Homo sapiens: one gene and its partners. The protein of the gene in region 3 purifies or fractionates together with the protein of the main gene of each other region. This does not show direct contact. Each region holds a gene or a part of one and is shown on either strand. Other genes may lie near its edges. The genes, in order: ABCB8, ETFA, SLCO4C1, ST7L, NTPCR, LAPTM4A and ATP2C1.

Region 1 (3,500 bases), on a different chromosome or scaffold from region 3:
GCAGTGACCTGAGATTGCGCCACTGCACCCCAGCCTGGCAACAGCAAGACTCCGTCTCAAAAAAAAAAAAAGAAGCCCAGTGGCTCCCTTAATAAAATCACCCCTTAGCCCTCTGTGGTGGGCAGTGGTGGGACAGTCTCCCTGTGGGGAGGGTGGCTGCACTGTCCAGCCCCAACCCTCCCGCTTCGGGACCCCCACTTCCCCTTTAGGGCCTGAGACTCTGACTTTACCTCCCACCGTACTGCTTGGCCATCCAGCAGCTTTATGACACACACAAGAACCCCCAGGGGCTTGTCTGTGCTGTTTCGCTGGCTGCTCCCACAGCCACAGGCCCTAGACCCATCCTCTTGGAGGTCCTTCTAGCGCTGCCTATGTGGAGATTCTTCCCCACTCATCTTGGGGGTTTGGATTTGTTGCATAAAGCAGCTGATGTGTTTCCCACAGGGTCCTGCCAGCTAAGCCAAGGGCCCATGCATTGGCACTGGGGTCTAGCAGAGAGAGGGGAGCAGGATGGCCCGGCCTACCTCAGGCAGCCTAACCTATGAGCCCATCCTGAGTACTCCTGATGGAGATGGGGAGGTGCCCAGACAGACAGCAAGTGGGGCCCAGCCGCCTCATCAGAATCAGGGCCAGGCTCCACCTGGGAACAGGCCCGTAGCCTACAGCCCACGGCCCCTGAGAGCAGGGTCATCACACTCCAATGAGTCATGTGCATTTTGAATTTCAGTTGCTGCCCAGCCCCTTTGCCAGGCCCTAATGTCTTCCAGATCTCTGGTGGAGAATGTGCCCCTGCTCATCAACAGATAGCTGGCTGGGCTGGCTCCTTCCTGCCTGGTGCCTCCCCCGGCTGCCTTTAGCAAGTGCTGACTGCACTGAGTCCACTGGGACCTTTTCCTTTTGGGTTTCGAGGCTCCTCCCACTCACCCCCACCCTAGTGCTGGAAGAAGTGAGTCTGCAGCTGAAGGGTTGCTGGGGAGTCAGTCTTTCCTCTTACTTAGGAGGGGACCAGGCATACACACACTGTCACAGGTCAGCCAGGCCAGTCAGGGACCAGTGACTCACCTTCCTCCTCAGCCTCCTGGCAGCCGGCCAGCCCTACCCCGGCCCTGCCGGGACGAAGGAGGCCACCCACTGTCTAGACAGATAACACTGTGGGTATACTTATCTGCAGGGCAAGCTCATGAGAAAAATTTTTTTCAGGGAATTTTGTTTTGGGGTCTCCTGAGAGTTCCCCTGTGGCCCAGTGTCTTCTGTTTTCTTCTTTCTCCAAAAAGATTTAACATCACTTCTTCCACCTAAATGTCTGCCAAAGTCATTGCTTCCCCAAGAGTCTGCAGCATTAGATCTGCTCTCCCCTTCTAAGCCACGCACCCTTGATCTCTGTTCATGGTGGCGGCCTCCGCATCCTCAGGGCCGAGCAGGGAGTCCGTGGGTCAGCTGGGCTCCCTTCCTCGTGGGCTGATATCACCGCTGCATGTGTGCACAGGCCTCACCCTGCAGACCACAGGCCAGGGCACTGGAGGACACCCACAGAGGCCTGTGCCTTCACTTCCATTTCCTCGTGGAGCACCCCCTCCCAGGGGCTTGGGCTGAGCTGAGGGACAGCTGTCATCCTCATCTGGCCAAGGAGGGAGCCAGGGCTCAGCGATCTGGTGTTGCTACGTCCCAGGGCTCTACGCCCCCATGGTGCAGGAGCAGTCTCTGCATTTGGCCACAGGCCACCTGCTTCCTTGCTCCCCCGCCCCACCGTGGCTTCCTTCCCCTCCTCTGGCTCTTCTTGTTCCCATCTATTCCACCCCTCTCTCCTTTTTCTGACAGGTCCATGGCCAACCTCTCTGTCCTGTTTGGGCAGGTGAGTGGCCGGTAGGGTGGAGGGCCTGGGGTGTGGAGTTTGTGCCGTGTGTGCCGCTGTGGGAGCTGCCTATTGACTGGGTGTGGGCGGGCAGAGGAGCTGGGGAGACCCCAGCCCAGAGCCATGGCCACTCCCTGGAGATGCTGTTGTCACCCCTACTCCTGCCTCCCTGCGGACTTTGGATCCCCTCCCACAGGTGGTCCGGGGGCTGAGTGCAGGTGCCCGGGTCTTTGAGTACATGGCCCTGAACCCCTGCATCCCACTGTCTGGGGGCTGCTGCGTCCCCAAAGAGCAGCTGCGTGGCTCCGTTACATTTCAGAACGTCTGCTTCAGGTCAGCACGGGTGAGCAGGCGTGGGGATGGGTCCCTGGGCCGGGGATGAGGCGAGTGGATTCGGGGGTGGAGGTCTGGACTAATGTCCCCCATAAACAGGCCCTCTCAGAGGGCTACAGGGAGACTTCAGGAGGGACCCGGGCAACAAGGGCTGGGAGCCTGGTCTGACTGGGGGTCTCTCGGCTCCTCCCAGCTACCCCTGCCGCCCCGGCTTCGAGGTGCTGAAAGACTTCACCCTGACGCTGCCCCCTGGCAAGATCGTGGCCCTCGTGGGCCAGTCTGGCGGAGGTAAGGGGAGCCCACCACCTCTTCACCCTCTGACTCTTCTCTAGCAGCCACTCAGAGCAAGGCCGGGAGCAGTGAGCCCCCGGTGGGGTCCCTTCCTCCACTGCCACAAGGGGCCTTCTTTCCTGGGACAATCCCTAGAATCCCTGGCCTCCCTCCCTCTCAACCCAATTCCCCAGGAAAGACCACCGTGGCTTCCCTGCTGGAGCGCTTCTACGACCCCACGGCAGGCGTGGTGATGCTGGATGGGCGGGACCTGCGCACCCTTGACCCCTCCTGGCTCCGGGGCCAGGTTGTCGGCTTCATCAGCCAGGTGCGGGGCCACATGGGCAGCCCTTGGCTCCCACTGCCCGTCCTCCCCTGGGCCCTGCCCCCTTAGTCCTCAGGTGCCTTTTCTTTCTTTCCCACCCTCATCCTTGCTGCTCTCGGGAGACCCTGGCCGTCTTCACATGTCCTCAGCTGTTGTCTGGGTGAGGCATCCCTGTCGTGGGAGCAGCCACAGCTCTGCCTGGTCTCCCAGAGCAGGGACGCTTTGTCCGCATTTACAGCAGTCTACACAGATGGGGAATCCCTCAGATTCTCTGCAAATCCCATAGCATCCAGGTCTAGAGAAGCCTATAGTGGAGGTGCTGAGCTGCAGCCGTTCTCCCTCTGCTTGAGGTGGCACTGCCCAGCGAGGGTCCACCCTTCCCTTTGAGGGCCGTGAATGAAGAGGGCATGCCTGCTGTCCGCCAGGGAGAGTGCCTGTGCAGAAGAAAGGCAAATGCAAGCCCCCAACTCCCAGCGCCCTGCCCTGCCAGCTCCTCCCACTCCCACTCCTGGGGAGGGATTCTGGGCCCTTGGTAGGAAGTCGAACTGTCCTTCCCTTTTGGGGGCCACTCTGCATCCTCACTTCACCTCTGACTTTGAACGTCTGATTCTTCAAGAGATCCTAATCTAATCCACCAGATAGACTGTCCCATTGTGTATGGTGGCCCCTCCAGTTTCTGGGGCAAAGAGAATGTTTCTATGGACTCTGTCTCCATAACCC
Region 2 (3,500 bases), on a different chromosome or scaffold from region 3:
GTGTTCCCCGTGCATCATATTAGCAGGTACTTAATGTTGGTTTATCCCATTAGTGGTAATGCTGACTTTAGTTACTTAGCCAAAGTGTTGTTTGCCAGGTTTCTCCACTGTCAAGTTAATACTCCTCCTTTTGTAATTTTTAACTAATTTGTGAGGCGATTCATTGAGACTATGTGACTGTCCTATTTCTCATCAGACTTTTACCCAGTCTTAGCATCTGTTGATGATTTTTGCCTGAGAAATGATTACTATGATGCAAAATGGTGATTTTCTATTTCCATGATACCTTCGTACATTTTTTAGTTATTCTACTATAAGGAAGAACATTATCTTCTTGCATATTTATGGATTTATGGATACATGGATCCTTATTTAGGATAATACATTTCTACCTTATGCTGAAGTTGTCTCATGTTTGTAAAGTGGGGCCCATTCAATCTGACTCCTGTTTGTTTACATATATATGTTTGTGATATCACAAAGTCAAAATAGCTTATCTCAAGTCCCCACTCTTGAAATTAAAAAAAAAATGTTCTGTAGCTAACCATTAATGCATTTAGGAAGAGGATACATTTCCAAAACCATATTTAAAAAAATAAAGTTAGGAATTACAGTTAAAAGATTACCATAAACTGTTAACGATGTGCATATAGTTAACACTTAACACTTAAAAATGGTTAAGATGGGGCCAACCATGGTGGCTGACACCTGTAATCCCAGCACTTTGGGAGGCTGAGGCAGATGGATCACCTGAGCTCAGGAGTTCGAGACCAGCCTGCGCAACATGGCGAAACCCCATCTCTACCAAAAAAAAAATTAGCCAGGCGCCATGGTTCACACCTGTAGTCCCAGCTACTTGGGAGGCTGAGGCACGAGACTTGCTTGAACCTGGGCATTTGAGGCTGCATTGAGCCCAGGTAGCACCACTGCCCTCCGGCCTGGGCAACAGAGTGAGACGCTGTTTCAAAAAAAAAAAAAAAGGTTAAGATGGTAAATTTTATGTATTCTTTTAAACCACTTTGTTAAACTATTAGGATATAAGTTCAATGACTTGCATTTGGTATCTAAGTTCCATTTTTAGTTCTGACTGATTTGTGCCATTGAGTAAAGTCTTTCATCCTTATGTGTGTGGCAATGGTCTTTAAAGTCATCTGTTAACAAAGATAGTTTTTATATCTATAATAAAGAGCTAGAGAACACACCAAGAGGCAAATAGGTAGGCATTTGCAGTTAGTTAATATTCTTGCAGGGATATTAATCCTAATTATTGTTATTTATTAATTTGCTCTTGAAATTGATTTATTGAAGAATAAGAAGATGCAGAAAAATATTTATGTGGTGAGTGAAACAACAATTTCAAGGTCATTTGAGTACTCTTTTTACTGTGTTTATTGTCAGGTGGGAAGGAATATCTATCAGGACTGAGAAGCTATGAAACTGGTGTGAAGGAACATGACACTTTTCTGTCTAGTATTGATGAATAAGATTGAACTCTGTAATTTGCATGCAAATTTTAATTTCTATTGAAAGAAGAAAGAGAGCCAATTTTGGTGTGATTCTAAAAGAAAATTTATTGCATAAGGTGAATTCAGTAAAATTATGATGCCTGCCAATGTGTCTACTAAGAGTCTTGTCCTTTCTTAAAGTGAAGTAAATTGACTGTGTTTTTAGTATTACAGTCAATGTCATATAACATTTCTGGTCATGATTAAAAGCTGCTATATTTTATTACTAAAAGGATTAAAGGAAGTATTTAAAGTACAGAAATATACATTTTAAAAATTACAAAATGTATGTTAAAATAGGGATAGGTGACTTTATATATTATCCTTTTGGGTATGACTCAGAAAGATTTTATAGCTTATTCTTGCTGTTTTTCTTTTTTTAATTAAGAAGCAAAAAAACCGGCTGGGTGCAGTGGCTCATGTCTGTAATCCCAGCACTTTGGGAGGCTGAGGTGGGTGGATCACGAGGTCAGGAGTTTGAGATTAGCCTGACCAACATGGTGAAACCCGTCTCTACTAAAAATACAAAAATTAGCTGGGTGTGGTGGTGCGTGCCTGTAATCCCAGCTACTTAGGAGGCTGAGGCAGGAGAATTGCTTGAACCCAGGAGGCGGAGGTTGGAGTGAGCTGAGATCGCGCCACTGCACTGCAGTCTGGGCGACTGAGCGAGACTCTGTCTCAAAAAAAAAAAAAAAAAGAAGCAAAAAAACCCTCCCCTGCCCTCTATACCCTCATTACACCTAGTTTCCAAAGATGGTTGGGGTGGAGGTATAGGTTACAATCATTCTTACTACTTTAGGTTATGAGTGGGTTTGTAAGGGTAGAGAGTTAGATTCCAGCTTTTTTTCTTCTTCTACCATCTGTGGTACTTTACTATGTGAATATACAGTTCAAGTCACAGCAAGAACTCTAAAAAACTGACAAGCAAAAACAATGTCAAAAATGAGGCTGATGCTGGGCACAGTGTCATGTGCCTGTAGTCACAGCTACTCATGTGGCTGAGGCAGGAGGATCACTTGAGTCCAGGAGACCAGCCTGAGCAACATAGCAAGCAAGACCCAGTCTCAAACAAATACCCACCCCCACAAGAAAAAAAAAAAAACAACTATTGAGGTTGAAAAAGAGAAGGACCAAAATGTGTTCATTGGACTTAGCCATAATGAAGTTTTTGGTGACTTTGGAAAGATTGGATTCAGTGTTGTGAAGGTGAAAGCCAGTTTGCATGAGTAACTGAAAAAATGGAAGGTGAGGTAATAAGAGTTGGTGTCTGTGGAAATTATTTTCAAGAAATTTAGCTTTGAAAGGGTGCAGAGAGGGTGATAACCTCTTTAAATCCTGCCCACAAGAAGTATACTATCTTATAAAGGCCAGTCAACTTTATATGGGTATGTGGCTGGCATGAGAAAGAAAACTTCATATTTTGCTATTTGCAACCAAGTCTAAACAGAGTATAGAGAACTTCTCTAAAAGCATGATGGTGTGTCTGTTTTAGTGATGTAACAGTTTATGTACTGTTTAGTTACCCTTATACATGTTTAGTTGATTACATTATCAATGAGGAAACAGTTGCTTTTTAGTTTTTGATAATTTTAAGAAAAGTTTTCATTTAGTTACTATTCATTGAGTGCCAACTGTGTGCCAGAGAGGTAGATACCAAGTTCACAGTGGAGAACAAGACAGACCTAGTCCCTGCCCTTGTGATGCAAACAGATTAAGGAAGAAACACATTATTTTAAGTGTGGTCATTGTTACAGAACATAGAGGGTGTTTGGGAGAGGTTTAATCTTGTTAGAGGACTGGAAAACACTGAAAGGATATCTGTGAAATTATGTTTGCACACTGAGGTGCCTTAAACTATTGTTACTGAGTGATAAAGTAATAGAGCGGAGGATTTTCTTTCTTTCTTTCTTTCTTTTTTTTTTTTGAGACAGAGTCTCACTGTTGCCCAGGCTGGAGTGCAGTGGCGCCATCTCGACTCACTGCAGCCTCTGCTGC
Region 3 (3,500 bases):
CCCTATACTGTAGTCTATTACATATACAATAACCTTATTTCTAGAAAAGCAATGTACAATGTATATACCTTAATTTAAAAATTATTTATTGCTGAAACATGCTGACAATCATCTGAGCCTTCAGCAAGTTGTAATTTTTTTGCTGGTAGAGAGTCTTGCCTCAGTGTTGATGGCTGCTGACTGACCAGGGTGGTGGTTGCCAAAGGTTGGGGTAGTTGTGGCAGCTTCTTAAAATAAGACAATAATGAGCAGTCAGAACACACACATCATTCATTGATTAAATTTTACTTCTTAAAGGGGCATGGTTCATGGTGTCCTGAAACAATTATTATAGTACATCAAAAATCACTGATCACCATAACAGAAATGATAATGAAAAAGTTTGAAATTTTGCAAGGTTACCAAAATATGAAATAGACATAAACTGATCGTGTACTCTGGGAAAAATGGCACTTGATAGACTTACTGAATACTATCACTATCACTAGGTTGCCACTAACCTTCAGTTTGTAAAAAACACAAGATTTGCAAAGTACAATAAAACAAAGTAAAGTAAAGCTAGGTAAGCCTGTCTATGGAAAGAACAGACTAAGAAGCTCAAGAAATACCTTTTCAGGGAGTGAGAGACAGAAGAGGTTCTGAGGATGTAGGGTTTCTAGTAGAGGGGTGCAAAGAATCTTTGACTTTTGCCATGGTAAGCACAGATGGGTAAAAAGAGATTTTGCATCCATGAATTAATGAATTAGGTTCATTGATATGTTCTTTGAAAGTCCCTGTTTAATATAACAGCATTTCCAAAAAATGTAAGATCAGGGGATATATATATATATAAATAATTTCAACTTTTAGATTCAGGGGGTACATGTGCAGATTTGTTACCTGGGTATATTATATGATGCTGAGGTTTGGGGTATGATTGATTCTGTTACCCAGGTACCAAGCATAGTACTGAATAGTTTTTCTTTTCTTTTTTTTTTTTTGAGATAGAGTCTCCTTTGGTCGCCCAGGCTGGAGTGTAGTGGCACGATCTCAGCTCACTGCAACCTCTGCCTCCTGGGTTCAAGCAATTCTCCTGCCTCAGCCTCCCGAGTAGCTGGGATTATAGGCGTGCCATCACACGCAGCTAAATTTTGTATTTTTAGTAGAGACAGGGTTTCACCATGTTGACCAGGCTGATCTTGAACTCCTGACCTCAGGTGATCCACCCGCCTCGGCCTCCCAAAGTGCTGGGATTACAGGTGCGAGCCACTGTGCCTGGCTAATAGTTTTTCAACACTTGCCCCACTTCTTCTCTTCTCCCTCTTGTATCTGCAGTGTCTATTGTTGCCATCTTTATTCCATAAGTACTCAGTGATTAGCTCCCACTTTTAAGTGAGAGCATGTGGTATTTGGTTTTCTGTGCCTGTGTTAATTTGCTTGAGATAATGGTCAGGATATTTTTCAATAATATTTTAAAGTAATTTATTATTAAATCTTTAATTGGGCACAATACTAAATTCGATTGCATGAATACTGTTTATTTTCCCACTGTTCCCCACTGCTCTTTTGTTGCCTTGACAATCTATAGGAACTTTGAGTCTTATTTTGGTGATCAGTGGTGGTAATGATGATTCATGTTTTACTTAAAACCTCATAGAATATAGAAATACCATAGTGTATACACACAGTATTTTTTTCTGTATCTGATCTTTAGCTAGAATTTTATTGATTATATGAAATAGCATCTTAAAGAGGCATATCAATATTTTGCAATAGTTTTAGGGAAATTTTAGCCTGTTATAGAGGCATAATTATAGAATACTTTGTATTTAAGAAATTAATGTTTGAATTCTACTTGTGGCAAACATAAAGATGTTTATATATGCACATTTATTTTATTATATTTTAAATCTATTAAACATTTCAAAATAGGATATTTTAATATTTTTAAATATGTATACACTAAGAAAATTTAATAAACTTCACAAGCATCTGCCGTTTTTCTACTAATAGCTTTCTAGTTACCTCAAGAAGTAAACCTTTGTAAAATATGTAGACTAATGTGACCACCCCTTGATATTAAGGAATATAAGCTATATTTCTTTGTTAATACTATAATTTGCATCATGCTGTCTTATACTTTGTATGATCTCAGTAATTATTTATCAATAACATGAGAATTATATATTGGGAACTTTAAAAATTGCTGTGTAAAGGCTATTTCTAGAGTTGCAGGGATGGTTTTTCTCTGGTTGTCTTATTTCTGCATCTATGTTATGAGCTCTGTGAGCGGACACTCTGGTGATGGCTTTTGTGAATGTGATCAACCCTTGATATTATCATCATACTTGATAAAGATAAATCTGGCAGCATCTGTGGAATAGATTTGAATAAGATGAGACTGCAGGCAGAGTGGCAGATTACTATCTTGATCACTCTTTCCTTCAGACTCCCTACTGATTTAGTCATTTTTTTCTCTTTAATTTGTTTTCTTCATGACTTTCTTGTTCTCCGCCTACTTTGTATGTCATCATTTTCCAACACAGTGTCGGTTATCTTCTAATACTTACAGAAATCACTCATTTACTGTGTTTGACCCCTGATGCAAGGAAGTTAGCTTCATGGTGGCAGAGGTTTGCTTCTCCTCCTCCCTCCCTTCTTCCCTTCCTTTTCCTTCTTTCCCTTTCCTTATCTCTTTCCCTTCCCTTCCTCCCTTCTTCCCTTCCTTCTTTCCCCGTTTCCCTTCCTTCTCGCTTTTCTCCCTTCCTTCTTCCCTCTCCCTCCCTCTTTCTCCTTTTCTCCTTCACTCCCTCATTCCGTTCCTTCTATCCATTTCTCTCTCTCCCTCAATCTGTCATTTCTAGTTCTAACTCTAGCTCCTTCTTTCTTTTAAATATAATTCTACCACCTTGAGTAGTCTAGCACATAATTGGTGTCCATTGTGTCTTTATTAAATAAGTGGACTCCCAAGACTTCAGTACCCTTCTCATTCCATACACTATATGACTGATCTTATAAATGTTCGTGGTTTCAGCTACATCTATGTCCAAATGGTTATTAAGAAATCTAGCTCCATTCAAGATTTCTTCTCCACCAAATTGGAGATACTCTTAATCTTATTACTTACAATACCATACTCATCATTGTTCTCCTGTACCTAAACACCAGGTTAGATATTAGGAGTCACCTTTGACTCTTCCATTCTTTTTTTTTTTGGAAATGGGATCTCACTCTGTTGCCCAGGCTAGAGTGCAGTGGCACAATCATAACTCACTGCAGCCTCAAACTCCTGGGCTCAAGTGATTTTTCTGCCTAAGCCTCTTGAGTAGCCTCTTCCATTTTTAACAGGAAGAGTCATCTTCAACCAATCCATCACCAAATCTTACTGATTCTACATCCAAAAGTTTTCTTTAATCTGCTTCCTATCATCATATGTTCTATCTTAGCTCTCCTTTATATTGTCATCACCTACTGTCTAGGGTATTGTAACTGGTCCCCTTTCTTCAAATTCATACTCTGTA
Region 4 (3,500 bases), on a different chromosome or scaffold from region 3:
CATACTGAGACCTCATCTCTATTAAAATAATAATAATAATAATTGTATTTGGCTTTGTAAATTTTCCTTTCCTAATTATGTATCATTAAAAATATTTGCTTTCTAGCTGGCCAGGCTCAGTGGCTCACGCCTGTAATCCTAGCACTTTGGGAAGCCGAGGCAGACAGATCACCTGAGGTCGGGAGTTCAAGACCAGCCTGGCCAACATGGTGAAACCCATCTCTACTAAAAATACAAAAATTAGCTGGGTGCAGTGGTACATGCCTGTTATTTCAGCTACTTGGGAGGCTGAGGAAGGAGAATCACTTGAACCCAGGAGGCAGAGGTCGCAGTGAGCTGAGATTGCACCACTGCACTCTAGCCTGGGCTACAGAGACTTCGTCTCAAAAAAAAAAAAAAATGCTGGGTATGGTGGCTCACGCCTGTAATCCCAGAACTTTAGGAGGCCAAGGTGGGCAGATCATGAGGTCAAGAGATTGAGACCATCCTGGCCAATATGGTGAAACCCCATCTCTACTAAAAATACAAAATATTAGCCAGGCATGGTGGTGCATGCCTGTAGTCCCAGCTACTCGGGAGGCTGAGGCAGGAGAATCATTTGAACTTGGAAGGAGAGGTTGCAGTGAGCCGAGATCGCACCACTGCACTCCAGCCTGGCAACAGACAAGATTCTGTCTCTAACTAAATAAATAAATAAATTTGCGATTACTCGACACAAATAGAGGAACAGTCTACAATAAAAGTATGACAATGGAATATCCATCCATGAAGAGCTGAGACTTTGATGCCTTTTTAAGTATACTGAAAAAAATTTTTTTTCCTACTTTTCTCTCTTGGCAGAGATGGCTGTTTCTGTTCTCTCCTTTATTAGTCATAAGATTCCCTGATTTGCTGGGCGTATATATATATATACACTGAGAAAATGATGAAAATTTCTAGCCTTCCTTATAGCTAGTAATGGCCATATGAAACAGACCTGACCAGTAGGAAGTAAGGTGAAATAGTATGTAACATTTCTGAGAATAGTCCTTGGCTTCTGTGGGGTGGAGTAGAGGGAAGTAGTGACCTTACCCCGGATTTCTTTCCTTCCTACTGATTGGAATGTGGATATGATGGCTGAAGCAAGAGCAACAGTCTTACACGACAAAGTAAAAACTACATTTGGAGATGGCAGGCTAACAAAATAGAAGGGGTCTGGGTATCTGATGATTATTGTTTTCCATACTAGCCATGGACTAACTATATTAACATGAAAGACAAATTTCTGTGTCTTGGTCCATTTGGACTGCTATAACAAAATATCACAAACTGCGTAGATTATAAACAGTATAAATTTATTTTTAACAGTTCTGGAGGCTGGGAAGTCTATGACCAAGGTACCAACAAATTTGGTGTCTGGTGAGGGTCTGCTTTCTGGTTCACAGACGGCGCCTTCTCGTGGTGTCCTCCCACGGTAGAAGTGGCAAGCAGCTCTCTGGGGTCTCTCATAAGGGCATTCATCACATCCCTGAGGGCACTGCCCTCATGACCTGATCACCTCCCAAAGACCCTACCTCGTAACATCACATTGGTGATTAGAATTTTGGGGGAAACACAAACATGCACACCACAGCACTCTGCTGTTTTGAGTTTTCTATCTCCCAGAGCCAAACTCAATCTTAAATACACAGCTCTGAAAACACATTAGAAAAGTAGTCACCTGACAAATTCTGTCTGCTGGTTTCATTTTCTCTGTTCCTCGAAGGAGAACCTGGTTCTGAAATGCTGCTCTCTGTTCCTCCCATCAGTGGTTGCAAATGGCTTACAGATACTTGCTCAATAAAAGATGTGCCATGCTTATGGAAGTACCACCATTCAAATATCTATGACAAACAGAAAATATCCTGCACTTAGAATCGATCAGCAGATACATGAGCTCAAATTAAAACATTCTCTCAAGATGTCCTGTTCAATTCAGCATTTTAAATGCACTCTCCTTTCAAAAAGAAAAAAACATACAAACACAAGATTCACCAATAACATGTCACGTAAAAGTGAAATACATTTTTTATAGTTCCGTCATAAAATTTAGACAAGCTTAAGCAAAACTAGGCATATGTAATAAAGCATTAAAAACAGAAAGAAGCATTTTAATCTATAAGTAATTTAACTCTGTTAAGTTACATTGTCATTTTATTCTATCTGCAGCATAAACAGTTTTCAAATAATAAGCATAGTGGATGAACAGACTAGACTAGCATCAGCATGCCCATGTTTTAACTCCCAAATCAGTCATTTATTAGCTGTGTGCTGTGGGCAAGTCACTTAATCTCTTAATATCTCAGAGCCTCAGCTAAATGTGGTTAACAAGAATTATAAGAAAGTGCTTTCTGAAGCAAAAAGTACTACTCTGGTATTTGGCAAAATTATTAATAAAGGTTAAGGTCAAGTTGATTCCCATATTGAACCATTTAAAAATCAGGATATTCATTTCTTTCTATTTCCATGGTTTATCACTGATATAAAAAGAGAAACCAGGCCAGACACGGTGGTTCACGTCTGTAATTCCAGCACTTTGGGAGGCCAAGAAGTCCCAAAAGAGGGATCCTCAAGAAGAATCGCTTGAGCCCAAGAATTCTAGACCAGCCTGGACAAAACAGTGAGACCTCATCTCTACAGAAAAATATAAAAATAAAATATTAGCTGGGTGAGGTGGTGCATGCCTGCAGTTCCAGCTACTCAGGAAGTTGAAGTGGGAGGATCTCTTGAGCCCAAGGAGGTCAAGGCTGCAGTGAGCTGAGATTGCACCACTGCCCTCCAGCCTGGGCAATAGAGTGAGACCCTGTCTCAAAAAAAAAAAAAAAAAAAAAAAAAGTCACCTGACAGACTAGTCTTCTGCCAAATGTAGTGGATACATGTATTACTTTAAAGAATAAACAAAGCATATGCACAACTAAGAGATTTTAATCTTTTTATTTCCTTTTTTTAAAATGTTTTGAGATAGGATCCCACTGTCACCAGGCTGGAGTACAGTGGCATGATCACAGCTCACTGAAACCTTGACCTCCCTGGGCTCAGGTGATCATCCCACCTCAGCCTCCCGTGTAGCTAGGACTACAGGCATGTGCCACCATGCCCAGCTAATTTTTATGTTTTTTGTAGGGACAAGGTTTTGCCATGTTGCCCAGGCTGGTCTCAAATTCCTGGGCTTAAGCGCTCTGCCCTCCTTGGCCTCACAAAGTGCTAGGATTATGGGTGTAAGCTACCATGACCGGCCAGATTATAATATTTTTGAAAACTATTTTACTATGACCACAAACAGAACCCATCACAAAAAAATCAGCATTTTCAAATCTGTAGGAATGTTATTTTTTTGCTTCAGTAAATAACAGAACAAATATGCTACATAGGTGCCAAAAGTATAGTCATGTTGGGGCCCGCTGACTACATGCCACAACGTTTATAGGAAAGTGTGAGAAAATCATGGTGCAGCATTTTTTCTATCATGTCACTAATGTTTT
Region 5 (4,300 bases), on a different chromosome or scaffold from region 3:
ATCTTCTTTCAGTTAATTTTTTCTTCATTAGTTAAGCTGCTACCCCAATGCTGTCTGGATAAGAAATGACCTCTGCTTCAGGAGACCTCGAGATGATAGCTGTATACCAGGCACAAACAGATCAGAAAGCTCTGGAATTATTTTGGTTCTGGTTCTCCCCTAAGCAGATCCTCAGATAAAGATTCAAGTGCAGGTAGTTTAACCTGGGCAGTGACAACATGATGGACTGGCAGGGAAGAAATTCAGAAAGGGAAGGGAAGGACACCAGCATGAGGTGCACTGTCAAGCAAGTTCCACTGGGGGCAGCTGGAGCTTCAACCCCCTGGGGAATCCTAAGGGACAAGTCAGGGCAAGTGGCTCAGTTATCCTGTCTGAGGAGTGAGAAAGTAGGGAATTTATCAACTAACTTTCACCAATCACAGGTTGAAGGCTAATCCCAGGGCACAGGAATTCCCTGGCTCTTCTGGCCTGCTCTGTTTGCAGGCCAAGTGGGCTCCAGGGACCAGAGAAAGCCCTCCAAGATGAGTCATGGGTACAGACAGTTGGAAATCGGAAAAAATGCTAAGTGCCAGGGGCACTAAGAGGATATGCAACAAAAAGTGACCTCTTTGAGAGGAGACTTTACCTGATGGTCTGAACATATTGAGAAAACAGAAAGAAACTAGGCAAATAAAAACACCTGACAATAACTCCTAATGGGGAAAAAAGTTATGTGTAAAAGGAAAAAAAAAAAATTAGAGGGCATGGTGGTGCATGCCTGTAGTACTAGCTACTAGGGAGGCTGAGGTGGGAAGATGGTTTGAGCCTGGAAGGTGGAGGTTGCAGTGAGCCAAGATTGTGCCACTGCACTCCAACCTGGGCAACAGAGAGAGGCCCTGTCTCAATAAGAAGAGGGAAAAAAAAGATGGGTAAGGTGGCTCACACTTATAATCCCAGTATTTTGGGAGGCCCAGATGGGAGGATCACTTGAGGCTAGGAGTTGGAGATCAGCCTGGGCAACATAACAAGAGACAGGTCTCTACAAAAAAAAAAAAATACCCGGGTGTGGTGGCATGCGCTTGTAGATCCAGCTATTCAGGAGGTTGAAGTGGGAGGATCACTTAAGCCCAGGAGTTTGAGAATGCAGTGAGCTATAACTGTTTCACTGCACTCCAGCCTGGGTGACAAAGCAAGATCCTGTCTCTAAAATAAATAAATAAATGGAAAAGAAATCATAGATTACTATGTGGCTCTGTTGTGATTGTCTTTACATGGCCATAATACTGTAAACATTGACTAATGAAAATTACGCTGTAACTACATTAAGAAGAGAAGGAGAAAAGACAAAGGTGCGTGGGTTTGAGGACAGGTTTAAGAGAGCTACACTGTAGAATTATTTGAGTCTTTCAACTACGTGTAGGTAAGACTTTGATAAAGCAGAAACAAGAACCACCATCAATACAATCACGGTAACAGGACACCTCCATTAATAAAACACACAGTTGTCTTGGGGTCAGCCTGCTGAGTATCAAACTGCATTCCAAGTTTCAAATAAAGGATTGACAAACCAACTTTCAGAAAACAGTTCTTTGCAATACTTAGGAGTGACTTTAGATAGCAGGCATTTCTCAAACCACCCTCCTCCTCCTCACCCCCTGCTCCCCAACTCCCCCATCCAATGCCTGACAAAATCCCAAAGTCTGCAATATTAGCTGTAGCCTTTGCTACTTACAACTAAACATAATCATTAAAATAAAGTGAAAGAGAATTCTAGATCCAGGGTTACAGCCTTTGATATCTGAACCCACACTAAACTTCAAAATTAGATTTGCCTTGCAAAGGAGCTGAAGAAATCACTTTCTCCACTCTTAGCCCATCTATCTTTTTTTAGCCTATCTGATGCAGCCTACCTGTCCTTTTTAGTAATGCTTGATACATGGGTAGCGCCTTGGTTTAAAAGCACCTCCTCCTACACCTCTCATCTGACCTCAACGCTATCCTGCTTCTCAGATGAGAACTCCACAGGCCACAGGGTTGAGGGATCTGACAGACATCAGGAGGGGACAGCGACAGGAACAAGCAAGAGTGTCTGAGAAGGGCTCCTGTAGGTACCAAAGCTTCTCCACCTCTGGCCTCAGCTGTGGAGGGAATTCGTGGGGATGGAGATGGGGATGGGGGTGGGGGGATGAACTTAGATGGGAAAGAAAGGTTACAACTTCAGTTTCGCTGTCCTCCAACTAAAATTTACCATTTTTTTTTTGCACGATCAATGTAGCAAAGACCCACAGTAAGGAAATACCTGTGACTATCAACAGAAATTAGACATCTCCACTTCACATCGCGGTTGCCGCAGATCTCTTGAAATACCATTTGTGCAGACCACAACGTCAACACTACAGTAGGAGTTACCGCTGCCGCTGGCCCCTGCGGTTTCTGCCCTTCATCAAGAAGCCAGTCTAGGACCCCCTCACAAGTGTGTTCTAATCCTTTAGGCCCTGTGTCTTTTAAATCACGTTTTCCGGGAAGGAGTACAAACTCTTCAGACTACCAAGCCCGCCATTTAAATTGGGAACTTCAGAGGCCGGAGCCCTGGAGCCGGAGACCCTCCCCGACAGCACAAGGTCGCCCGCAGCCCGCGCGCCCCCACCCCCTCGACCTCTTGGAGGTGGGGATCCCCTCAGGGTTACCTGGGGGCCCCGTTAGGAACACGTGCCGGGCCATACTGGTGGGCGGGGGTAGGGGTTGCGGTCAGGGGAGCAGTCCAGGTTGGGGTCGCAATTCAGGTCAGGTCCGGACCAGGGTCGCGACTCAGGACCCGCCCACCGCGTGTCGCAGGCCCCGCCCCCAAGCGGTGCTTTGACCGGAAGCACCGCCCTCAAGACCACGCATGCGCCTTCTCCCGAGTCCCCGGTCCGCGCCTGCGCATTCAGCCCTCGGCATTGGCGCCTGTGCCGCGGCAGTTCCTATAGGCGGAGCGGGTTGTACGGTCTCTTAAGTTTCATTCTGGGTTCAGGGCTTTTGTGGGGTATTTGCAGAGATAAGTGCGTGAGAACGTCAGTTATTAAACTATTGCTGCTTCAAGTCAGCGCCATCACCCAAGTTCTGCCCCTTGACTCCGGACCTAGGAGCTGAAATTGCCCAAGGCTGCCGGGACAGCCCTTTTGTAGAAGGTTTGTGACCTGGAAGCATTCCTCAAAGGGGGATGCCATGTTAATGACTCCAACTTTGTTCTCAAACATTCCTGCAGAATAGAATCAGCTGGGGAGTTTTAAACTTGCTCTGATGCCTGGGTTTCACCTGCAGTAATAGGGAGTGTCAGAAGACAAAATTACAAGTTTAGTTTAAAGATCTAATTGGCTTATATTTAGGATCTAGAATCGAGAAATAGATCATTTCATAAAGCAAATAGAGTGTTCCAATGAGTTGTGCAGAGGAGGTTGGCTTTATGGGCAAAAAAAGGCTGAAGAACAAAACAAAGAGTGGGTATTTCAAAGTTACTTTCCTTATAGGGTTAAAACAGATTGGACTTCGTTATTGTACTGACTCAGGTTAACTACAATCTCCTGTTTTTTGGGAAAACGGGCCTGTTTCAAAGTTCAGTTTGGTTACATGGCACTTGGCACAAGTGACTCCATTCTGGTTTGGTCTAGTCTGCTAGGACCTAGTGCAGGAGGTTAGTCCAAAACAATGGCCTCCCATAAATCTTGTTTAACATGAGTAATTGGTCTTGAGCGAGTCTTGAGCACCTGTATTCTTTTTTCTTCTTTCTAAACTCCAGGAAGTTCCTGAAGTGCGCTAGGGTTGAGAACCACTGGTGTAGGCAGGCTTCCCGTCCTCAGCCATGCATAGGACGCCCAGTTTTCCCTCTTTACTTTCACACCAAAGTGTATAAAGATCTCCTCTTGCAAAGAATTAAATAGCTTCTCCGTCTCACTTTACCACTGCAAGTGTTCCGGCCAACGAATGACGTGGCAGTGGCCTTGGGCCACATTTACCTGTAAACTCTTTCAGTCTAACATGTGTACAGCTTAATTTGTAGTCAGTCGTTCCCCATCCTGGCTGAGAAAGCAGTTCAGTGAGTGCTCAACTTAATTGGTTTCTGCCCACACATGGACCTCTTGGTTTCCCTTTAGCCTGAGACATATGCCAGTCCAATGATTATCTAAAAAAACAAAGTTGGATTTGTAAAATATAGCTGTCATCACCATCATTTCTGCAACATTTGTAATGCTCTATTATTATAACAGTATACTATTTATTATCCCAACTGTTAATGTAGGGCCTTCCACCTTGATTTATTTTGCAGTCCATATATGTTGAA
Region 6 (3,500 bases), on a different chromosome or scaffold from region 3:
ATGTATGTAGCATTCTGAGTTTAATACACTTGTCTTTTAAGCAATTGCCAGCCATTCCTTCCAGCTAAACCCTACTCATAAGACCCATCTTGTGTCATTTCTTCATATTTTTTCCTGATGCTTCAGGCAAAGCAAATTGTTTCTGCCTCTGTTGTAGCACTTGACACATTGGATTATAATGATCTGTTTGCACATCTTCAGATTCCTGGGCTCATAAGGGCACAGGGACCTGTTTCTCTAGCAGAGAATGTGGTTCATGTGCCATCCTACACCCATGTCAGTGAGTCGTTGGAGCGATTTAACAAATAAGTGCTTTGTGTGAATGTCTCAAGGTTCCTTACTTCATGCTGAGACTTTGATTTTTTTTTTTTTTTTTTACCCTCTTGGCCTTAGATCTTTTTATAGCCAATTTTGAAAATATTTAAATTTAATATTTTAAAGCTAGCTTTAAGTGAAGTTTTGTTCTTTTTGTTGTGTAAGTAGCTTAATTAGATTTTTGTTTTTGTTTTCTTAGATAATGCCTGTGTTCTTTTTGCCGTCTCTGTTCTTATGTTTATAATCAGTTCAATGCTGGTTTATGGAGCAATTTCTGTAAGTATACTGTATTTTCATCTTTTAGAGTTTGACCTTAGGGGAGCTTAGTAATTTCCTATATGTGATACAATGTTATGGTTGTTATTTTTTCTCCAGTATCAAGTGGGTTGGCTGATTCCATTCTTCTGTTACCGACTTTTTGACTTCGTCCTCAGTTGCCTGGTTGCTATTAGTTCTCTCACCTATTTGCCAAGAATCAAAGAATATCTGGATCAACTAGTAAGTGTGTATGCTCATTAAACTTATTTTTTTTTCATTTTGAGTAAAATGTTTACATTTAAATTCTGAATCAGCCTTAGGTATTATTTTTAACTACTCCGCTTGCTTTTGAAAGTGTCTTAAAATAATTATTTCTGCTCTCTTAGCTACTGTGACAAAACTGGCAAGATGAAAGTAGAGTAATTTCTTACCATCCATTTGGATAATGCAGTATTAAGAGTTCCTAGAAATGGATATTATGGAACTAGTAGTTCAGCTTTTGTTTTTGAGCATCCAAAGGTACAGTAATTTGACTGTGTATGGCACTCTTTAAGTGACTAGCTTATTGTCTTTACAGACATCTGTAGCAAGTATTCCAGTGCCTACTATGTTTTTAGCCCTTTGCTAGGCACTGTTGGTGAATGGTGTGGATATAAAGATAACTGCGAATATTACAGTTTAGCGAGCAAACTGTAATATTTGGGGAGTCAAGATACATGAAGATGTTACCTGTGATAACAAGCGGGAGCTGTCACAGCAGCAGCAAATAAGGAACTTCGATTAATGTCATATGGAGGGGGGCAGGGAAAACTCTGGGCTGGGTGGCCAAGGAGGGCGTCGTGGAGGTGGTCAGAAGGAGATATGGGATCTAGGTAGATGAAAATTGGCAGGAGTATCCTCAGTTCATTTCCAAAGTGCTGTCTTTCAGAACTTTTCTTCCCACTACCAGATTTCCTGCCTAGCCCATTTTCCACACCACCAAATTCATCATTCATTTATTCAGAAAACATTCGCTGGTTGCTCTTATGTGCAAGGCACTCTGCTAGGTCATAGAGATGCATCAGTGGAGCTTACTTCCTGGTGAAGGAATCAGGAAGTTGACAGTTAACTGATACACCATTGTAGGTTACTGTGGGAGTGGATATCACATGGGTACTAAACCTGGGCTGGGAAGTGAGATTTGAATTGTACTCAGGAGTTTGAACAGGAATTAAGATAGAGAAAGTATAGAAGACAATGTTCCAGATAAAAGAGAGACCTTGAGGCAAGAAGCAGCATAGTGAGGGCACTAGAAGCTGGCCATGGTGGCTGGCACACAGAGGGAGGGTGGGGAAGCCTGGAGAAAGGTGGCCAGGGGCAGGGCTGTTGGCCTGGTCAGCCACGGTCAGCGGCTTCTGTGTGGCTCTCTGCTCATGTCATCTCCGGGGGAGAAATTTCAAGTGGTGCCTCCCTGCCTTCTGAGTAAAACCCTTAGCATAGCATTCCCTCATGAGCTCCACCTTCTGTGTTTTTCTTTTTGTTTATAGATGAAGATCAAAAAAACAGCTTTTTTCCCAAGGAGACAACCTGGCTGGGGTTTGGGGAGTAGTGTGTTCTTAAAATTTTTTTTTTCTATTTTTTTCAGTCCTTTGGGATTTCTGTTTATGTTGCTTTTTAAATGAAAATGTAATTAGGCCTTCTTGTTGACATTTCCATTAAAAACAAGCATAACTTAAAAAAATTAAATCAGCTTTATAGAAAAGAAGATAAAAATTTATTATTCCTTTTAGAGACCCTGGTGTTTTCTCTCCTCTGTTTTGTTCACTTAGTGCCTCAGACTGGAAGGTATTTCCTCTGTTGGTTAGTTTTTAAATCTGAAATTCTTCTTTTATAACACCTTTCTCCCTGAACTTAGCTCATTGCCTTGTACACAGTCAGGGCTGATTAAGTATTTAAATGAATATAGCTGATGCTTTTCAGTAGAACAGAGTATGTCTGCAGTAAAACTTATGTCTTGCCTGACATTGTAACCAGTGGGTGTATTTTTGCCCCTGTCTGATGAGAGTTGAGACAAACGATTGACATTTAGAAAAATAATTTTCCCCTTGTAGCATTAAAATGGCCCAGTTTATCTGTAGAACTTACACAGAACTGAGCATCTCCTGAGTTAATGATGCAAGTGACACAGGGACTGATCTCCAGTGCCATATAGGCGATAGTGTTTTTCCAAAGGCCAGAAAGATGGAAAATAGTGAAAAGTAAAGAGAAAACGAGCTAAATTTAGACTTTTTGGAGCATTGTGGGTTATCAAATGTACTCTAAGTGATTGTTAGCATGCATTAATGGTGATAAGGCTTAAAATTTAAAAGCACTTTGAATTAAATTCTGCTTATACATTTTTATTAAATATCACTTTTGACTTTGGTGCCTTTGTATTCTTCAGATGCTCTTCAGGTTATCAGCAAGTGCTAGTGCGATGGCTGACTTGTAAATGTGTGTGTGTTTCTTTAATAGCCTGATTTTCCCTACAAAGATGACCTCCTGGCCTTGGACTCCAGCTGCCTCCTGTTCATTGTTCTTGTGTTCTTTGCCTTATTCATCATTTTTAAGGTACGTTGCTGACTAAATCTTTAGGGGTGACTGAGATTGACACTGTGAATCTAAACCTTTTTGCTGCCTTTCACCTTACAAGTCACAGGAGATTGAGGATTTGTGGGGACAGTGTTTATTCTGGCACATGAGCAGAGATAGCTTCTAGGGAATGGTTTCTGTTGTGTTTCCAAGGAATGGTTGTAACTGTCAGGATCCTTCTCTGAGTGAAAGGACCTACTTTTTATGTTTTTGAAAAGGGGTTCATGATTTGTATTGAAAATCTGTTAAAATTCCCAAGGTTCACAAACCCAGAATTTCTTCTGCAGCACAGTGGGTTGACCTGAATTGAAGCTCCA
Region 7 (3,500 bases), on a different chromosome or scaffold from region 3:
AGCTTATCTGCTTCTTTGTTGTTGTGAAAAAATACCATGAGAAGGGTTTTATATTACATTGAAGAGTTTAGGAAGAATGAATGATAGGTATACAGAAAACAAATTAAAGAGGTGGTTATTAACTTTATAAAAGACAAAACTTGAACAGGAAAAGAAGTATCCTATTTGAGCTATCAATCAGGATAGGCCATGAAAACAACATCATGCTCTCCTGCTGCCTCCCTGTCCCCAAATATCTGCTCATTGTAGTTACTTGGGAATGCAGGCAGATGGAAGCTCCATTTTAATGTGAGCACACACTGTCACAGCAGGGGTAGAAGAATAGGAAATTGTGCACTGGCACCTACATTTCCATTTGGAAGTGACACAAGTACTCATGTTTATTGGCCAAAGCAAGTCATACCTGACCGTTGTGGAGTGAGGACGGCAATAGGGAAATACATTCCTGCCTCCCAGGAGAACTGGGATATTTGTGAACTGCTATAGTCATTACCACACTTGGCTTAGCAGCAAAGAGTCTTGTTGTAAACAAAATACTGGCAGATTTTGCTTTAGCTATATCATAAAGATGGGGAGGGGGGGAATAGATAGTGGAAATGGGGAAATTAACATCTGTCACAATAGACAGTGTATAAAATTGATAACTGATGGAGTAGCAGTATAAACATGTTAAAAACATGAGGGTAAATATCAGAGAAAACAGCTAAGAGAGTTAAAATTATTTTGCTTCCATGGAGTAGGACTAGTGGTGAGAAGCGTTGAACAGGAAACTGCAGTATTTCATTATAAGCTTTTGAAGATTATTTACCATGACAAAAAATAAAAGAAAAAGTGCGATAATACCCATAAATACAGTGTGATTGGGAGAATTAAATGGTGTTTTAGGTAGATAGATATAGACGTATATAGTAGCTAATAGAGAACTTGAACCATTGTGAGCTGTTATTTCTCTTCCATTTCCTGTTATGTTGCAGTGAGCCTCTTTCCACATTTCAGAGTGCCAAATTTGGGGCTTAGTATAGCATTGCCTTTTATGTGTGGGATGGTGGGATAGATGTTTTCTATAGAAGATACAGAAAGCTCCCCTATAGGAATATTTAATCTTCAGAGTTCAGGTGGCAGTCAAAACCTTAGGCTTGAGTAACTTCTCTGGGAATTATGAGAAATGAATGCCACTTAATTTTGGACTCCAATGGCAGGTAAGTACAAGTTGAAATTAAACTTGTGTTTGGTACATTTTCTTCTTAGGACAGACCAGAGATTTGTTTTATGAAAGGTGCTTACGAACAAGTAATTAAGTACTGTACTACATACCAGAGCAAAGGGCAGACCTTGACACTTACTCAGCAGCAGAGAGATGTGTACCAACAAGAGAAGGCACGCATGGGCTCAGCGGGACTCAGAGGTAAGGCTATTTCAGCATAGTCCCCTGGGGTGGAAAGGTAGAGCCTTCTTTTAATTGCAGATGAATTCATGCTTCACATTTGAGCTGTCCAACTCACTTCCAGGATTTGTAGAACCCTTGCCAGTATTGAGGTGTTAAGTTTTAGTTGGTTAATTGGCCCTCAAAAGATGGAAATTTGAGAATGTAGCAAAATATGAATCACTGGTTCTTTTAGATCTCCAGAGGTCTCTGAGTAGCTGATAGAAATTTTATTTTAAACAAGTTTATCTTATGAGAAGGGAAATGGATCGAGGTAAAATGGTGTTACTCTCTTTTTATCACTTTGTTTTAAAGACAAAAATACTTTTCTAAAAATTGAGTCTGAAGCCTCTAATATATCCTTTAAGGTGATTGCTAACTTGATCTGTTACTGTTCACCAGGGAGGTAAAGAAGTCCCCAGATTCTGCTTACTTATATGCTGCTGACTGAGCAGTGATGGGGAGAGGGTCTGCTGGACACACACACATTAGGCCACCTCTCCTAGGGATGTCATGTGTAAGACTCGGGGGTTGGTGGTTGGTGTCCTAACCTGATTCTTACCTTCTGGATAGTCATCTGGCTTCTGCAGAATATATGTAGTTATGTAGTCTCTCACAGCAGTTGGAAGAGTTGGCTTCCTTAATTTTATTATTTTAATGAAATAGGAGTCTAAGCACTACAATTTCTGGGAGGAAGAAAAACAAGTTATGTGAAAAATGTTTTTATTTGTTGTTCACTTAAGCAAAGGCTTTTTTTGAGTTTTAAACATTTTGATGGATTTATAGGGCTTCTGTTCTTAAAATAAACTAAGTTTGGAAAGGTACTCTTACCAGCAGAGAACATTGCTCCCAGCCTGCTGCCATTGCCCTTCTCTCTGAACCTTCTGTGCTGCTGAACCAAGATCACTCCTCATACCCCTGCCCCCAGAGCCTGGTGCATCTCATCTGGGATATGGGCTGTATTGTGACCATCTTAACACTTCATCCCCTGTCTCCAAGGAAATGGGAGGCAGAGACTCATGGCTGAGAAGTTATTTTGCAAATGGATATTTTGGATGGAAAAAAATTTAAAGGAAAACAACTTTTCCTTCCCCCTTTCCCCTTTTAATGTAAGAGGCTTTGATGACAGGTTCTAGAGTTTCTGGGGTTTCATCCCAAAGGCCTGAATCTGGAACATGCCCTGGATCCCCCCACCTCAGTCCTCAAGCTTTCTGGACCCCTGAAGCCAAGGCAGATTCTTTCTCCCAGCGTCATTTCTGGGGCAGGAGGAATCTCTTTTCTGGTTTACCTGGGCCAGACCTAAGAATAGCAGGATCTCTGAAACCACAGGGTTTTGATGTGTTTTTATCAAGCCAAATGTACAATTGCCAACTGACACTCTGGATAATTGAGCACAGGGGGTGCCCTCGTACATTGTACCGTCACTCCCTTCTGAACAGTTGGCAGACCAAACTGTTTGGAAGCTCAGATACTCTGGCTCAGGGTAACACTTTTGTTCCCCTTACACTCCTCAACTTTCCACCTCAGCTAGGGAAAGAGAATGACAGTTAAGGCTTGACCCAGGATTATAATCGTTAGAGCAAGTGGGAGTTTCAGAGACTTAAGGGGCACTGCAGGGAGGCCTTGCTGCCACAAAATTAGGGTTTGGATTGATAAAGCCTGTGTCGGAAGGGGCAGTGGCAGCTCCACTGAGACAATCCTGGGAAGACTGTGGTGCAGAGGGCCTGTTACTCCCCTGATTCACCTGATTCTGGGGCTTTGACCCTTTCTTTTTAAATTTACTTTTGCTAAGTTGCACTTATTTATTTTTTAAAAAGACCGTTGGTGAACAAAATGTGAACCCATTTCTTTCCTCTTTTGAACTTCTGGGATGTCATCACTTCCAGTTTGTTGGCTTTGTTTCCAGCTATTAATAAAGCATTAAAAGAGTGGAGAAAAAAAGGTAGGGAAGTGGGCAGAGTCTTGCTACTCTTAGCAGCACATAGCAAGAGGTTTTAAAGTGGCATGGATTTAGAGGACTTAAAGAGGTCTTGAAGGTCTAATATATGCTCCCTCTTTTTGTTAGTTTCTGGAACAA

Evidence for each region.
Region 1: the proteins of SLCO4C1 (region 3) and ABCB8 purify together in Homo sapiens (affinity purification with mass spectrometry; one large-scale study listed by BioGRID and IntAct). This does not show direct contact.
Region 2: the proteins of SLCO4C1 (region 3) and ETFA purify together in Homo sapiens (affinity purification with mass spectrometry; one large-scale study listed by BioGRID and IntAct). This does not show direct contact.
Region 4: the proteins of SLCO4C1 (region 3) and ST7L purify together in Homo sapiens (affinity purification with mass spectrometry; one large-scale study listed by BioGRID and IntAct). This does not show direct contact.
Region 5: the proteins of SLCO4C1 (region 3) and NTPCR purify together in Homo sapiens (affinity purification with mass spectrometry; one large-scale study listed by BioGRID and IntAct). This does not show direct contact.
Region 6: the proteins of SLCO4C1 (region 3) and LAPTM4A purify together in Homo sapiens (affinity purification with mass spectrometry; one large-scale study listed by BioGRID and IntAct). This does not show direct contact.
Region 7: the proteins of SLCO4C1 (region 3) and ATP2C1 purify together in Homo sapiens (affinity purification with mass spectrometry; one large-scale study listed by BioGRID and IntAct). This does not show direct contact.

The regions. Positions count from the first base shown.
Region 1 is NC_000007.14:151,038,450-151,041,949, forward strand, and holds part of ABCB8 (mitochondrial potassium channel ATP-binding subunit), read left to right. Parts: intron 1-1,818; coding exon 1,819-1,852; intron 1,853-2,048; coding exon 2,049-2,185; intron 2,186-2,378; coding exon 2,379-2,473; intron 2,474-2,649; coding exon 2,650-2,783; intron 2,784-3,500. UniProt on the Homo sapiens protein: ATP-binding subunit of the mitochondrial ATP-gated potassium channel (mitoK(ATP)). Together with pore-forming subunit CCDC51/MITOK of the mitoK(ATP) channel, mediates ATP-dependent potassium currents across the mitochondrial inner membrane.
Region 2 is NC_000015.10:76,304,970-76,308,469, reverse strand, and holds part of ETFA (electron transfer flavoprotein subunit alpha, mitochondrial), read left to right. Parts: intron 1-3,500. UniProt on the Homo sapiens protein: Heterodimeric electron transfer flavoprotein that accepts electrons from several mitochondrial dehydrogenases, including acyl-CoA dehydrogenases, glutaryl-CoA and sarcosine dehydrogenase.
Region 3 is NC_000005.10:102,251,285-102,254,784, reverse strand, and holds part of SLCO4C1 (solute carrier organic anion transporter family member 4C1), read left to right. Parts: intron 1-3,500. UniProt on the Homo sapiens protein: Mediates the transport of organic anions such as steroids (estrone 3-sulfate, chenodeoxycholate, glycocholate) and thyroid hormones (3,3',5-triiodo-L-thyronine (T3), L-thyroxine (T4)), in the kidney.
Region 4 is NC_000001.11:112,609,142-112,612,641, forward strand, and holds part of ST7L (suppressor of tumorigenicity 7 protein-like), read right to left. Parts: intron 1,863-3,500; coding exon 1,700-1,862; intron 1-1,699.
Region 5 is NC_000001.11:232,949,111-232,953,410, reverse strand, and holds the start of NTPCR (cancer-related nucleoside-triphosphatase), read right to left. Parts: upstream 2,801-4,300; 5' UTR 2,701-2,800; coding exon 2,667-2,700; exon of another isoform or gene 2,255-2,666; intron 2,084-2,254; exon of another isoform or gene 1,862-2,083; intron 1-1,861. UniProt on the Homo sapiens protein: Has nucleotide phosphatase activity towards ATP, GTP, CTP, TTP and UTP. Hydrolyzes nucleoside diphosphates with lower efficiency.
Region 6 is NC_000002.12:20,034,629-20,038,128, reverse strand, and holds part of LAPTM4A (lysosomal-associated transmembrane protein 4A), read left to right. Parts: intron 1-514; coding exon 515-591; intron 592-690; coding exon 691-813; intron 814-3,066; coding exon 3,067-3,162; intron 3,163-3,500. UniProt on the Homo sapiens protein: May function in the transport of nucleosides and/or nucleoside derivatives between the cytosol and the lumen of an intracellular membrane-bound compartment.
Region 7 is NC_000003.12:130,974,084-130,977,583, forward strand, and holds part of ATP2C1 (calcium-transporting ATPase type 2C member 1), read left to right. Parts: intron 1-1,248; coding exon 1,249-1,405; intron 1,406-3,500. UniProt on the Homo sapiens protein: ATP-driven pump that supplies the Golgi apparatus with Ca(2+) and Mn(2+) ions, both essential cofactors for processing and trafficking of newly synthesized proteins in the secretory pathway.